Linked DNA regions of Homo sapiens: region 1 is linked to region 2. The links come from fine-mapping of genetic effects on gene expression. Tissue or cell type: whole blood. Region 2 holds a variant in brackets; the other region holds the start of a gene. All regions are shown on one strand. Distances are from middle to middle.

Region 1 (8,096 bases), 65 kb after region 2:
AATTTTAGAAAACAACCAGTTTAGACAGTTTGACATTACCTAGTAAATTTGAACGTGCACTTACCTTAAGACCTGATGATTCCACTTCTAGGTATATATCCTAAAAAACATTCTTACACACATGTATCGGAGAAATATTTAAGAATATTCACAGCAACACTGTTTGCAATAGCAAAAACTGGAGCCAATCCAACATCCAAAAGTAGAATGGGTAATTAAATTGTGTTATGTTTTTACAACAAAATACCTATATAACAGAGAAATCAGATAGGTGAATCTCAGAAACATAATGCTGGGCAAAAGCTGCAAGTTGCATGGGAATAATGCAGAATGATTCTATTTTAAAAAAGCTCAAAAACACGCAAAAACAAACCATGTAGTGTTTAGGGACACATATATTTGTGATAACATAATTATTAACACAAAACTTAGGATGGTGGTTTCCTCTGAAAGAGAAGGATATGATTATAGAGCGGCAGATGGAAGGGTTCTTCCTTGAGTGGAAGCTTTAGCAAAGGCAGTTTCAGTGGAGTGGCAGGGATGGAAGCCAGAATGGTGTGTTGAAGGCTGCGTTGAAGCTAACAACATGAAAGACAGCTAATGCAGTCAGCTCATTAAAGACATGTTGTTGAAAATAGGAGCAGATTATATTATCACAAAGCAGTGAAAATGATCATTTGCAGAGCAAACTTCTTTCTCACAAGGCAGAAGGAGGGTGAGCTAGGGTGAATATAAGAGGCTGGCTGTGATTGAGCTGAACGTAGGGGCAAGAACAGAGCTGCAGCCTGGGAGCCCTTCTCATAAAGAGGGAGATTTAGGAGTCTTCTTCGTTGGTCGCCCAAAGACTGTCTGCCCACTTGGAGATAAGCAAGCAAGATCTCCAAGCAGCTCAGCCACTGCCTGCTTTGGCTCTCATGAGACCTCCTGCCAGGAATCCCCATTAATCAAAGTCTGGGAACAAAAGCAGACCAGTCAGTTCCCAGGAGCGCTCACATGTCTTGCAGGCTGGCTTGGGCTTTCTGTTTCTTTCGGGGTCATTGCTCTGACTACCCACAAATATAACTTAAAATCTCATCTCAATGTGACTTTCTGGTGATGTTTTAAAAGCCTATCAGGGAAACTGAGCATTTGCATCTTTGGAAGTTTATTCGAGGGACTAGCTAGGAAAACTCAATGTGGAAAAGTACAAGAGAGAAATGATCACATTGAAAGGTCATGTGGCTGGGCGCGGTGGCTCACACCTGTAATCCCAGCACTTTGGGAGGCTGAGGCAGGTGGATCACAAGGTCAGCAGTTCGAGATCAGCCTGACCAACATGGTGAAACTCCGTCTCTACTAAAAATACAAAAAAATTAGCTGGGCGTGGTGGCAGGCGCCTGTAATCCCAGCTACTTGGGAGGCTGAGGCAGGAGAATTGCTTGAAACCGGAAGGTGGAGGTTGCAGTGAGCCGAGATTGCACCACTGCACTCTAGCCTGGGCAATAAAAGCAAAACTCCATCTCAAAAAATAAAAAGAAAGGTCATGTGTACAAACTTTGACTTTGAGGGTTATCTAGGAACTCATTAGTAACCTGCCTGGAGAGAAACCTGGAGCTACAAGCCAGCAGAGAAAGGAAATGTGTTCTTCTATCAGCTCCAGGTGTAGAGCAACAGGAATGGGGCACAAATCTGAAGAAGGGCTGGGCGCGGTGGCTCACACCTGTAATCCCAACACTTTGGGAGGCTGAGGCCGGAGGATTACTTGAGCCCAGGAGTTCAAGACCAGCCTTGACCTCCTCTGTGTTAAACATAAAAAAATTAGCTGGGCATGGTGGTGCACACTTGTAATCCCAACTATTCAGGAGGCAGAGGCAGGAGGATTGCTTGAGCCCAGGAGTTCAAGACTGCAGTGGGCTACTGCACTTCAGCCTGGGTGACACAGCAAGGCCCCATCTTAAGGGGGAAAAAAAAGTCTGGAAAAGGCCAAAGGATACTCAGAAGAGAGATTTCACATCCTGTTAGGTAAAACTGCAGCTGTGACTATGGGGTTGGGAAAATTTCAGAAGCAGTAGGAGAAAATCAAGAACTTCCCCTTCCTAGTGTGGAAACAGGCTCTTGGGATCTCTCCTGCCTAATGATCCCTGAAGGAGAGAGGGAAACAAACATCTTAAGGAAAAGGAAGAAATCATCATGTTTCTTTTCTCCTGGAAACCAGGCCTGTTTCAGAGGGAATAAGAAAAGTCGGCTGGGTGCAGTGGCTCATGCCTGTAATCCCAGCACTTTGGGAGGCCGAGGCTGGAGGATCACGAGGTCAGGAGTTCGAGACCAGCCTGACCAATATGGTGAAACCCCATCTCTACTAAAAATACAAAAATTAGCCAGGGATGGTGGCGGGCACCTGTAATCCCAGCTACTCAGGAGGCTGAGGCAGGAGAATCACTTGAACCTGGGAGGCGGAGGTTGCAGTGAGCCTAGATGGTGCCATTGCACTCCAGCCTGGGTGACAGAGTGAGACTTCGTCTCAAAAAAAAATTTTAAGCAAGAAAGAAAAAAAAATCAGATTCGTGATAAGCTTGTCCCAAAACCTCAGGTAAGATTGATAGTCCATTTTAGGGTGCTGCTTGCCTCCTCTTCCATCTCTCCGCCTTTGGAGAGCAGATACCTGTCCATGCTTCTTCAAAGGGTGGAATGAGATCCCATCCATCTTACATGTATTCAACAGTAGCTTATTGAATGCTTCCTGTGTTCAGGGAGCTCTTCTAGGTATTGAAGAAGTGGCTGTGAATGAAAATAGACAAAACCAGACTGAGATAATGGTATGTAAAGTGTGATATGAATATGGGGGTCAGGCTCGCTCAATGCTTTTGCCATTTCCATATGGGATGATTCCAACAAGATACTTATAGTCAAGCTGTTAGAAATAAAGGCTTCCTTTCCCCTCTCCAGCTACCCCAATAAATCTGGGTCATTCATCATTGTTGTTCAGTTTGTACTGAGCAGCCCCAGTTAAGTGAGCTATGGTTATATTGAAATATCCACTTGGCCACGAATTGAGTGAAGGTGGGAGGTTCCTCCTGCTAATTCTCCTCCCCTCCCAATACACTTCCTGGCAACCCCCACGCGGAAAACCTCACCCTACTATAGGCCCCCTTCCTCCCACTCTTCAGAAGGCGGTGGCCCCACCCAGGAGAGGGCTGCAGATCGGGGCCAGCCCCAGGGCCTCCGCGGTGCCACCTCTCTCTCGCGAGGGTCCCTGCCGTGCCCCGGCTCGCCGCTGGGAGGCGCTGCGGCACCGGCGTAGGAGCCGCCGGCAGGGGTGGGGCGGGGCCGGCGGGACGGGGCAGAGGGCCCTGCGGCGGCGGACGCGGCGGGCTCGGCCACAGGTAACCCGCAGGAGCCGAGAGCGCTGCCTGGCGCGCGGGCGGCTGGAGGCACGGCGCTGGGCGGCGCCGAGGCCCTGGGGCCGCCGGAGCCAGCGGGAGCCAGTCCCCGTCTTCGCCCCTCGCCCCCCACCGTGTCGCCGGCCTTGGTCCCTGCGGCGCGGACGTCCGGCGCGGGAGAGAAAGGTACCAGGCGACCTCGCCGGCTCCCTGGGACCCCCGCTTACACCGGGGTGGGCGCCTCAGGTCGGGGAGGACGCTGTCGGGGGAAGGGGGCGCTGCTCCCTCGGCACCCCAGGATCGCCGACTGCCCGCGGAGGAGACCCGGACACCGCGCCTCGCCCCCTGGCCTGCGGCCTCCGAAAACGCCCGGCGCGAGGGGGTCCCCCCGGGGCGCCTCCCTCTTCGCCTGGCATCAGTTGCCTCCCTGGAATATGGAACTTCGGGCGAGGGAGGTGGAGAACTTTCTTCTGGGGCTCGTCCCTCGTTCTCCTGCTCGCTTGCAGTTTGAAGGAAGGGCGGTGGGGGCGGGGGTCCGAGTACCCCGCGGTCTGCGGCGCGTAGGAGGGTAGGTCCCTGGCCTGCGGCCGCCTCCGAATGACCCCGTCCCTCCCCGCCCTGGACGACAGCACTAGGGTGCAGTCGCAGGAGAGGGGCCGATACCCCTCAGGAGCCCCATCGGCGAAGCCTCAGCAAGTGGCATCTCCCGGGGTCCAGAGAGTCGGCGTGCTGTCTGGTTTGGGTCCAGACATCAGCTCACCCAAGCTTATCTTGGGCTTTTAAGTGTGTTGCTTCCGGTAGATCTCGGGGACTGGAGGGGAAGTGCAGCATTATTTGTGACCCAAGAGGGACTTGAATGTCTCAAAGCTGGTCAAGAATGTTTCCCCCGCGAGGTAGCATGAGATGGGTCACGTGGTAGTAAAGAGCCACTTCGGGCCCGTGAGATGGAGTTCTGACTCCACCACTTGTTAGGTGTGTGACTTTGGAAAACCCACTTCTTTAAACCTTAGTTTTTAGAACTCTAAACTGCAGGTATTGTACATAACCTCGTAGTATTGTGTTCATGCAGTGAAGTGATGGGAATGAAATGCTTGGCATTGTACTCTTGTGTGTTAGACACCTTTTGCGAACCTGTTGGATGTTGAATTCATTCATGCTTAGGTTCTGTTAGGCCAGTGTAAGTGGAAAGAACTTGGGCAATGAAGACAAACACACCTGGGTCCAAGGTGGTCCCATCCATGGTATACTGATTGGGGGTTTCTCATCCCCAAAACACCAATAGCAGCCTTGGCGGGGTTTTTGTTGTTGTTGTTTTGAGACAGAGTTTCGCTCTGTTGCCCAGGCTGTAAGCTTTGACCTCCTTAGCTCAACCGATCTTCCCACCTCAGCCTGGGACCACCACACCTGGCTAATTTTGAATTTTTTTATTTTACTAGAGACAGAGTCTCACTGTGTTGCCTAAGCTGGTCTCGAACTCCTCCTGTCTCAGCCTCCCAAAGTGTTGGGATTACAGGTGTGAGCCACTGTACTGGTCTGCAGCCTTGTTCTTGAGTGTAGTAGGTGTGTCTATACCGATACATGTTACACTTTGTCATCTTTAGTATTTGTTTAGCATATGGTAACAAAAAATTTTTTAAAAATTAGGGATACAAATTAAAATTGGGGAGTATTTTCTGCCCTCTAGGTCATACTGGACATGGGGGAAGGGTAGAAGAGGGATGAAGAGGAATTAAAGAGACCAGAAAACAACTAGTCGCAGTGTTGGGAGGTATAAACCAATGGTAATTTTTAAAAATGTGAATTTATTAACTCCTTGTTTTTTCATGGTGGCACCAAAAATTAATCTTAGTCTCCCACTTAAACTCATCAGCCTCCCCAAAGCCTTTCCAGATAAGCATATGCTCCATGTAAAAGCAGACTGCCTGCGATCCAACTCAGCTTAGAGACAAGGCACACTTCCAACTCCCAAGGCCTCCTTCTTGTATAGAGATGCTGGTGCTGCCACTGTGAAATACATCATACACTCAGACAGTATAAACCTTAGAGTGCAATGTAAAGAATAACAATAGATCACACCCAAGTACGAGTCACCCGGCTGAAGAACTAGAACATCGCCAGGCCCCTGGAGCCCCTGAGTACCCCTCTCCATTGCCTTCCACTCACTTCTCGCCTCCCACCCAAGGAACCACTATTCTGGATGTTGTGTTAACTTTTTCCCTTGCTTATATGAAAAACCCTGAGGAAAGGAAGTTTCCCAACAAGCATTTCCACAATAACCTGGAGCATTCTTTATTTTTCTTTTTTTCTCAAGGAGCATTGTTATTGAACTTAAAAGCAGGCTATTGAGGGTAAGATACAAACCACAAAAAAGCCGAAAGTCTCAAAGTCGGGGGATCTTTTAGTCTCTGTCTTCTTCCAAGTTTCTCCTGTCTCCCTGGCACGGATCCCGAAGGTGTGTTCTGTCTGTGTAGGGGAGACCCAGTCTCTTCCAACATAGATTGATGGCTGTGATTTTAAAAGCTTTGCTTGAGTCCCTAAGAAGTGGGAAAACAGTAATTTGGGTGCGTGCGTTTTAGAAGTTTTTTTAAAAATGCAAATTATCCAGAAGGCATTGTGTGGGATTTGAAGGATTAAGCTAAGAGTGACCTTTAAAAATGGTTTTAACAACCCAAATTCCTCTTCCTGGTTGATATGTTTGTGTTATTGTCTTTGTTTTATTTCTTCAAGGTCACATGGCTTTCCTTGGTGAATCTTACACTGTTTTGTTACTTCTTGGTTAAGGCAAAGATTCTGAAACTTGGTTTCATGGAGCCCTTAGTGTCTGAGTTAATTTTTTCACAATTCCCTTAGGCTTCAGTAGTTAGTAATTTTTTCACAATTCCCTTAGGTTTCAGTAGTTAGTAGTTAGGTTCAAACAACTGAGTATTTACTTAGAAGTTGTTTGAAAAAATAATATACATAAACTGAGAGAAAAAATATTTTACATCCTTTAAAGTCATAATTACTAACCGTATGTGTGTGCCTATACTACTTTTCAAACCTTGGGATCGTGTTGGACACTGCCACTCTCATTTCCTGTTTCACATTAATATTTCCGCAGCATTTGGCTTTTATCACAGCAGCCACAGAAAACCCAGCTTTGCAAAGATGTATTGTCTTGGATAGGAATGTAACATGATCTACTGTTGAAACTGCAAACTACCTCCAGTTAATAGGTTCAGCAGTGTCCAGACATGTTTGGTATACTAGTTTCCATTGAAATTTTCAGATTTTCTACATTGCCCATTTTAATTTGCTATAGTTGCAAAACACCCAGTCAGGGGGTCCAAAATAGTAAACTTTGAAAACATTATGCTAGGTGAAATAAGTTAGTCACAGAAGGGACAATATTGTATGATTCTGTTTATATTAGGTACCTAGAGTAGTCATACACATGGAGACAGAAAGTAGAATGGTAGTTACCAGGGGTAGGGGGAGGACAGAATAGGGAATTCATGTACTATTTTTGCAACTTCTATGTAAGACTAATATTATTTCAAAATAAAGTTTTTAAACGTTTTTTAAAAACAAATTCTGTTGATGGTGCCCCACTGCTGGACTGTACCAAGGCACTGAGGTTAGGGACAGCAGCAGAGAAAAGCTTAGGGGTGACATTATCTCTATTTCCCAGCTCTTCCTCATCCCGTCAAGGGGGAAGAGATGGAAGAAATAGCTATGTTCTCTCTCTTTTATAGGGAAGTGTCTGCATTATTTACTGGTGGGTTCCTTTATAAACCTGAGGATCAGCTATTAAATTTGTCACTAAAATAAGAATTTTTAACCTGGGGTTCAGTGGTGGGCTACAAATACTCTAAGATCTCCCAAAATTATGTATAAGTATTTAAGTGAATGCTCTTATGTATGTTTGAGGGGGAAGAAGTTCCATAGCTTTCATCAGATTCTCAAATGGTTTCCTAAGTCAAAAAAGGTTAGTAAGCGCTATAAGGAAATATTTACAGATTCCTACCTACCCCCACCCCATAAAAGGCCCCTTTATTTGGATGTCTTATCCCATTTCAGTTCTCTGACATATCTTTCCCCCACCAGTTACAAGAGGCTTTCTTTCTGCTCAGACCCCAGATAAGCCCGACCAGTTCTTTTTCCTCAGAGCCCCCAGCTATTCATCTGGATCCTGAAAACTCCAGGACCAATTCCTCAAGAGCCAAAGGAAGTCCCAGAATGAACATCTTGGACTTCTGAATAGGGCAGATGTGGAACTGAAGTCTCACAACTGCCACATCTCTCTGTGCCCTCCTTAGGTCTAGAAAAATATGAAGTAAATAATAATATATTAGGTACACAGCTATGGAAAAACTCATGAAGATGGTACTGAATGACTGAAGTCCAGTACATTCTGCTTTGGGGGAGGCAAATTTAATTTTAAGAGTGTCTTCTGGTTTACACTTTATGTTCCAAATGTATTCTAAATATAGCATACAATACGTCCTACCTTGTTTCATATCCAGTGATACAGATGAGCTATAGAATTTACACAGTGTTAGAAAAGATGTTAAATATCAGAATTTACTTAATAAGTAGGTCTCTACTCATTCAGACTGGTTTCATTTTATTTTATTTTATTTTTGAGGCAAGGTCTCGCTGTCACCCAGGCTAGAGTGCAGTGGTGCAATTTCAACTCACTGCAACCTCTGCCTCCTGGGCTCAAAGCCATCCTCTCACCTCAGCCTCCTAAGTAGC
Region 2 (8,105 bases):
GCTTTTAAATTGGCAGTTAACATTCTTGAAAGCAATGGCTTAACAATGGTTATTAAGTGATGTACTGCTTAAAGTAAAACATGGACTATACCTGATTACAAATTACATCCAGTCTGTACAAGTTGAATACATACCATACTTTAATAACCAAGACAATTCAGCTGTTTTTCCAGAGTATATTTCAAACAGAGTTGGCATATAACCCGTATGTAACAATATTGCTGTGATTTTAGTCATATTTAAGGGTCCAAAATATGTTCACAAAAGAACAGTTTGTGAATGTCAACCAGTTTTTGCTTTATATTCCTTCAAAAACATTCCACCCTGGTCATTCACACTAATCTACATCACTGAAAATAACCAAAATAATTCACAGTCTCACCTCTATGTAAAAATTCTAATTGACTCAACAGGGAAAGGACTGCCCTGCTCCTTTTGAGGAAGGAAACCTGCAAGGCAAGTTCTCAATCCCTAAAACCAAGCAAAAATGTTCCAGTGCAGTTGCTGTAGCCATGTATTTAGGATTTGTATTTATAGAATTAAATTTGAGAATGAAACATGGCCATACACATCGCAATAAGCTGCCTCTCATATCAAAAATACAATGCAAAATGACTTGAAGACATTTCCAATAACACAGATTTGAAAAACTGAACGCTTAGACATAACTCCTGCATCTTTCTTTAATTAAGAAGTCATTGCCACACTTACAAAGTTAGAGGCAGTAATCTATATTAGCGTGTGATTAATCAAAGAGTACACTTACTACCATGAACTTGGGCCCTATGTCATAGAATTATTTTTGCCTTTCCCCCAAAGAATCATTTGCTCTTGAAGTAATAGGCTTTTTAAGGCACATTTTAACAAAAACCCATCATATACCCAGCTTAAACATGGAAGCTCCAACCTGGTTATAGTAATAAATATACCTAAGTAATGTGTGATTTACCAAATAGGCTAGTGTCTCTAGCTTGAGGATAAAGTCATATTAGAAAACTGATTCTTCATTTGCTTATTCAAAGTGAAACAACATGTAAAAAATATTAGAGAATTAGATTTATAACAATAACCCCTAAGTGTCAGGTCTGTTGGCAAAGGTCCAACAGGATATAGCTCTGGAAATCAGGGAGCCCTGGGCTCCTAACCATCCAGGTTTCGGAGTAGGAATCATGAGGAAAGGAGTTAGGGCACCTTAATTATTTTTAGAAATCTCCTTTCAAAATGCACAGAACCTTGGGAGGCTCAAACCTTAAACACCAACCAGATATCATCTTAAATTCAGTTACCAGCTTCAAAGAAACAGGACTTGGGGAGAGGAAGGAGAGAGGTTGGAAAGAAGCCACAGAGAGAAGTGGGAAAGTTTAGGCTGGGCACAGTAGCTCAGGCCTGTAATCTCAGCATTTGAGGAGGCCAAGGCAGGAGGATTGCTTGGGGCCAGGAGTTTGAGACCATCTTGGGCAACACAGTGAGATCCTGTCTCTACAAAAACAAAATTTAAGAATTAGCCGGGCGTGGTTGTGCACACCTGTAGTTCTAGCTACTAGGGAGGCTGAGGTGGAAGGATCCCTTGAGCCCAAGAGGTAACAGTGAGCTATGATTGTACCAATGTATTCCAGCACAAGCAACAGAATGAGGCCCCCCTCTAAAAAAAAAAAAAAAAAAAGTTTCAAGTATAAGTTGCTTTAGGGACTTTATATATTTTGCTAGGACCAACTTTGATGTTCTTAGGAGGCTCTGCTTTAAAAAAAAAAAAATCTCATTTTCTAATGCCCCACAAGCATGCCTTAGGGTGCTAACCCTTGAGATGCACGTAAAATTATCTACTTGGAATGATTTGGCATAGGGGTAGATTTAGGACTCTTAATTTCCTGTTAGTCTAAAGTAAACATAAGTGAAATAATTTCACAGAAACAATTACACAGCTAATTGTAATGTCTCTCCAGCCATCCTTTTCCCACTGACCTTTAGGGGTCTTCAGGATGACTCTTCAGCCTTGCAGAGCATGCTGGTGGCAGGCTGAGCTTGGCTTAATCATAAGGTGGGAACAAGTGGAGTACATGAGGCATGTTATCACCAGTGAGAAGGAGATGTGGAGGTGACAAAAGTGACTAACAGGATTGAGCTCCATGGTGGGGTTCTGCGATTTGTTCTATTCACTATGGTCATGGAGCAATAAAGAACTGGTCCTGAATAAGCATTTTAAATGCAGCACACCAGACCATCGCACAGGGCCAAAAGTCCAGAATTGTATCTATGTTTTTTAGTCTGCAGTTGCCAATCACATACTTTTGGAACAACTTTAGGCCTCTGATGTTACTTTAGCCCTGGGTGGTAGGTACAGAAAAGCCTCCAGAAACCCTACAATTCAGTGACATTCTTACTTCTCTCCAGTGTTCGGCACCATTTTGGAAATCTGGTCCCAAAGTTTCAAAAGAATACTAATGCAACAAAAAGAAATAACCTCTCTGTATAAAGTGATTATAGAGATGTGTGTTGAGGTAAACAGCTTCATAAAAACCGTTGAGCAGGGAAGCACAGCCACTGCTATAGAAATTTTTAGGTAAGTCTGGTGCTAGCATTATTCTACAAAACTGTTTACACCCATTATAAATAGGGGACAGTTCTTATTGCTCCTGGAGCTTGTAGCTCCAATCTGTTCCAGCTCCACTGAAAAATGATTTTTCTCAACAATTGGTAGCAAAGATTTCCAAATTTACAAAAAGTCATTACCAATGCATCACTTTTTGATTAATTTCTGATTGCCATATAGATATGGACTACAGTATGCATGTCCTTGACACCAAGTACAGAAAAAAAGCTTAGAAAAGTCGTTTTATCAAAGTTCAGTTCAATGAGAAACATGAAAAAGTGCAAAATATGTACAATTCCTGGCAGTTCTCACACGGGATTTTTTTGACTACAGACCATAAAAGTTTACATTTGTGTAATGAAATGACAATGGATTTCACATCACTGTTAATATACAAGTTTTTGCTTCAAAGTGCTTACTTTATTTATAAAAGAGAAGATCAAGAGGGTTGCAGGAATTTTTTTTTTTTAACAACAAATCAATGGTATGTGTCCCAATCTCCTTCTTCCTCTTCCTTTAGTGCAACATGGCGCAGCAGCCTCATGGATAAGGTCTGATTTCAAAAGACATTCCTGAAACCTCACCTACAGCAGCACTCTAGGGGTCCCATTAGGGGTGGCTCTCTTTTTCTTCTGCAGCCGATTCTGAACCTTTCGAGATTTTACTACTTTCATTCTCACCTCAAAAACTTCATGAATGGCCTTCCGGAAGCAATGAAAATTATAGTCAATTAGCCCTGGAGAAGAGAACAAAAATATTTATAAATGTCACGTAGAAATAATCTCCATCTTTTCATGGGACCCATGGCCAGGACAAGCCAGTAGGGGGCAGTAGAGGATGGTCTTAGCGTAAGGACCAGAGATTTCCCTGGGATGTCTGCAGCTGGCCTTCAGAAATTGCTATAAATCTTTAGGAATTATAGGCAAAGTCTTGTGAAGGAAGATTTTTCCTGATGCAAGGTTGCAGAGCATAGACCATATTTTCAAAGGTTCCTATGACCCAAAAGATTTAAAGAACGACTGAACTGAACTTTTTTTTTAACCTTTCAGAATTAAAGATTTCTTACAATTAAGAGAAATCTGTAATGAAAAATGTTTCTCCCCAAAGGGCATTATTAGACTGAGTAGAGGCAGATCCTGACTTGGGATCCCAAAGCTGTGTATCAATCAATAAATATTTACTGAGTATCTATTATATTTAAACCATTCTCATAAGCCCGAGGGAAAGCGAAGCCCCTAATTTTAGAGTGTTAACAGTCATCTCGCCAACTCCAGCAGAAATTCAACAACCAATGACACTCAGCTTTTCAGTATTAAGTATTTTAAGTGGAGAAATAGTAGGAG[G/A]GAATCTTCTTGTGTTTTCAGAAATGTATCAGTGACACAAAAAATAGAATAAAAGATAATCCAAAGTCTTGATGAGTGCATTTTTCATCATTACTAGTAATTTGTAAAAGTCCTGAGAGCAACATTATGTTTACACCAATTAGGATAAGGTGGTCAGTTCTATTTACTATCTTTGAATTTATTAAAATAACTAGCCCAACAATTATTTCTATCTATCAGTGGATGCTTCTAGAGCCGCGTCCAAAGGAAGAATTAGGATTCCGGCCAAGGATTAAATTCTTCAAACTAGTTATACAACTAACTGCAAGGGGAGGGCGGGGAGGGCACCGTCTCGGTTTCCAGGAGCAGGAAAACCTCTGAGTAGTGCCCTCTGCTGCTTCTGCAGAGAGAGTGAACCACTAGTGCAGTAAAACCAGGAGTCAATTTCCTCAAGGAAAGACCAATGTCACAAGCAAGGGGAAAAGTAATAAAAACAAAGGAGCAAAGGAACGATTTTTAAATGGCAATTTGAATATGAGATGTGAGAGCCTCAAGATTCTCTGCTTTTATGTGCAACAAACTGTCTTAAAAAGCTTAGCTAAAAGAACTTGGCTCAATGAGAAGGGTACAATGAAATACTCAACTTGGGAAATTTCAGACATATCCTGTTCTTATTTCTGAGGCAGGGTCTCACTCTGTCACCCAGGTGGGAGTGCAAGGCTCAATCACAGCTCATTGCAGTCTCAACCTCCTGGGCTCAAGCAATCCTCCCACCTCATTTTTGAATTTTTCCTAGAGATGAGGTCTCACTATGTTGCCCAGGATGGTCTTGAACCTCTAGGCTCAAGCAATCCTTCCACTTTGGCCTCCCAAAGTGCTGGGATCATAGGCATGAACCACTGGCACCCGCCCCTATTGTTCTTGACAAACCTTAACTTACATATCTTTGCACATTTCAAAATGTAACAGTAATCTTGCTGTGTTTGGAATTTTAAGTAAAAGTTCACAACTGAGGCTTTTTAAAGACAGTAAATATCCATAAACAGTGTTTGCTATTTCAACCCTCATGAAAAGTTTTTGAAAATACATGAACAGAGACATAAACAAAATAAACACTCTCTTCACCCCACCTACAGTTCATAAGGCCCCACATCCTTCTCTGGTTCAGGAGTTCTCAACCCTAGCTGCACAATAAAAACACCCAGGCACCAGGCACACCAGGAGGCCAGGCACAGCACAGCACTTCGGGAGGCTGAGCAGGGAGGATCACTTGAGGCCAGCAACCTTTAGCCCTGACTGCCATAAAGTGGTGGTGTGATGTTGAGAGAAAGTCATTTATATTTTCTAGGCCTGAGTAAAATCATCTGTGACATGAGAGGGTGAAACAAGGTGTATTCCTGTCTATCTTTAAAATTCCGTGATCTATTATATAATCTGTTCTTGTTTCTAGCAAGATGAAAATAAGGAGTAAAAGATGAACACCATTTAATTTACAGTTCTGAGGCCAAAGGACACAAAAGGCAATTTGGTCAGTCATGGTACACACAGGAAAAATACAGGACATCACTAAGCAGCAAGAAAATGTAAATTCACATAATATACCAGTTTTCAGTTAACAACTTTTAAAAATACTAATACCCAATATTGATAAGAACACAGCAAAATAAGTATTCATATTCTCTTCGCAGCATAAAACCAGAAAATCTTTCTGAAGAACATTTTGGTAATATGCATTAGAAGCCCCCAAAATGGGCCTACCCTTTTGATCTAAGTAATTCCACTTTAAATTTTTCCTTAGGAAACAACCAAAGATGCACATAAATATTTAGTGCAAAAGAGGTCATAATGATATTATTTATAACATTAAAATCTAGAAACAACATAGATGTCTGAAAATAGAAGAATCTAATACAATCATTAAAATGATGTGGTTAAAAAAAGACGGTGAATTGGAAACATGTCTGTAATAATTTAAGTGAAGGTTATAAAGTAGAATTCATCATACAATCTATCATAGTCCTTTTAGAAAATGCATATGCAAGAAAGGACTGGAAAAGTATACAGGAAATGTTAAGAGTAGTTATCTGAATGAGAAACATCGATAATTATTGTTTTTTTGCTAAATATTATTTCTAAATTTTCTAAAAGAATCTATTACTTTTCTGATAAAAATAAACAATGTAAATTAAGTTTTCATGGCCAATGAATTAGGAAAATTTCATGATATACGTAAGTGAAATATATGTAATATAAAATATAAATATTTTCATATTTGTATTAAATATAAAACTATATTAGAATATAAAACTATATTAGACAATATGGCCCCAGTTTTGTTGGAAGGAAGGAAAAAAAGGAATGAAGGAAGGGAGAAAAGGAGCGAGGGTAGGAGGGAGAGGAAATAAGAGAGAAGGGCCAGACGTGGTGGCTCACTCCTTTAATCCCAGCACTTTGGGATGTCGAGGTGGGAGGATCACTTGAGCCGAGGAGTTTGAGACCAGCCTAGGAAACATGGTGAGACCCCAATCTCTACCAAAAACAAAAAAAAATTCCAGGTTGTTGACATGTGTCTGTGGTCCTAGCTACATGGGAGGATGAGGTGGGAGGATCACTTGGGCCCGGGTGGTCAAAGCTGCAGAAAGCCATGACTGTGCCACTGCACTCCAGCCTAAGTAACAGAGCGAGATCCTGTCTCAAAAAAGAGAGAGAAAGGGAGAAAGAAAATCCCAGAAATTTAACATGGGTTTAGCTCTAGATGGTGAAATACCTGGTTTTATTCTACATACTTTCCTAAATTTTCAAAGCATTTTTAATTTAATGGGCTTATATTGCTTATAATATAGAAGAAAAAGGCTATTTCAGGATATGTTACTATAACATATTCAGGATATGTAACTATTTGTTGGAGATTTTCTTTTACCCAACAAATTAGTAAACCATACCCTATTACTAACAAAAGTCCCTAGCCATATCAGTAAGCTAGGGACTTCTGTTAGTAACTTTTGTTTAGATATTATAGAAGGGGGAAATTAGTTTAATTGCTTTTGTTTCAAAATAAAACTGAATTTGATCCTAAAAAAAATTTGGTGGAGTTAAATATATTCATGGTCTTCCCTTTCCGGAATCATGATGCCATCCCTGTGTTCTGAAGATTTAAGAAGTATTTTGAGGCTGAACAGAAGTCAAACCACCTGTTGTCCCCTCCTTTACATGGGAAGAACAAAAGATCACACGGTTACCTAAGACCTTCTAGAGGTGTGGAGCAAAGTGGAGACCTCCACCCTCAGTATAGGCTGGGAGTCTGCTCCCTGGTAAGAGACTTCATTCACAGCCTGGCAACAGTGCCCCAACTAGCTTCCCCCTAGCAGAGATGCCAAGGCCCCTGGGAGGATCATGGGGTTCCACTTCCACCTCGCTGCAATCGCAGATGCACCACTAGAGGGCAGGCCAGTTCACTGGCCCAGAAGCTGACACTGGGGGCAGGAGCCCGCCCCGCTCTGAACTCCAAGCCAAGAGGGCCTGTGACTGGCATCTGGAAGTTTCGAGGGCTATGCTGTTGTCCACCCACATTCAACAAACAATACATGCAGTAGCAGTCTGATGCTTCTTTTAATGCTTCTTTTAAATCACACCAAAAAGTTACCTTTTCTTTCAAAGCTTTCCTCTCTGACAAAGCAAACGAGAGCCAGGAACTTTGTCACCTCTTTTAAATAAAGCACGGTTGTATTATTAAGCTTTATGATGGCTGTGGATTCCTTGTCATAGGGGGTTCCTGCTCCATCTTCTTTGAGACTAAATGGGGACAGAAACCAAAACATGTGACCATTGAGAAAGAACTAGAAACTGTAAGCCAGTGACAAGAGACCGGCTTTAAGCCACAAAAAGTGATAATCATAAGTTGTTTACACTTGCAGTGCCTTTCAGCAAAAGAGCTCAGAAACACACAGGCACAAAAACATACACAGTCCTCAACAGTCATTTCCTACTGACAATGAGTGGCTGTCTGCAGCAGCTGGGACACTCTCCAGGCACCTGAAGAAGCCAGTTGAAGGATGAGGTTAGCTCTCCCCACCTCCGTGGCCAAGGGCTTCTTGTTTTCTCACCTAGAATAGCCAGGCTGTCAAAAGCGTGGTCTGATGAAAGACTAAGAAAGGCTGAAGATATGTTCCAAATTCAAGGAGTCTAAAGAGACC

Evidence for each region. PIP is the estimated chance that this variant, and not a neighbour inherited with it, causes the effect.
Region 1: it holds the start of ANKRD6, and the variant in region 2 is fine-mapped to the expression of ANKRD6 in whole blood (TOPMed, PIP 0.97).

Annotation. Positions count from the first base shown.
Region 1 is chr6:89,429,831-89,437,926 of GRCh38, forward strand. ANKRD6 (ankyrin repeat domain 6) reads left to right here and starts at 3,322. Exons shown (of 16, transcript NM_001242809.2): 1 at 3,322-3,545. LOC124901360 (a long non-coding RNA gene) reads right to left here. Exons shown (of 2, transcript XR_007059675.1): 1 at 3,587-8,096; 2 at 378-2,757. RefSeq lists a silencer at 3,114-3,593.
Region 2 is chr6:89,364,882-89,372,986 of GRCh38, forward strand. It overlaps RRAGD (Ras related GTP binding D), which reads right to left. Exons shown (of 7, transcript NM_021244.5): 6 at 7,556-7,704; 7 at 1-3,326. The coding sequence ends at 3,175. Among named protein-coding and RNA genes, the nearest start is that of UBE2J1, 16 kb to the left of the region's middle. RefSeq lists enhancers at 3,156-3,385, 7,209-7,503, 7,413-7,632, 8,003-8,105. The variant G/A (reference allele first, on the strand shown) is at 3,934.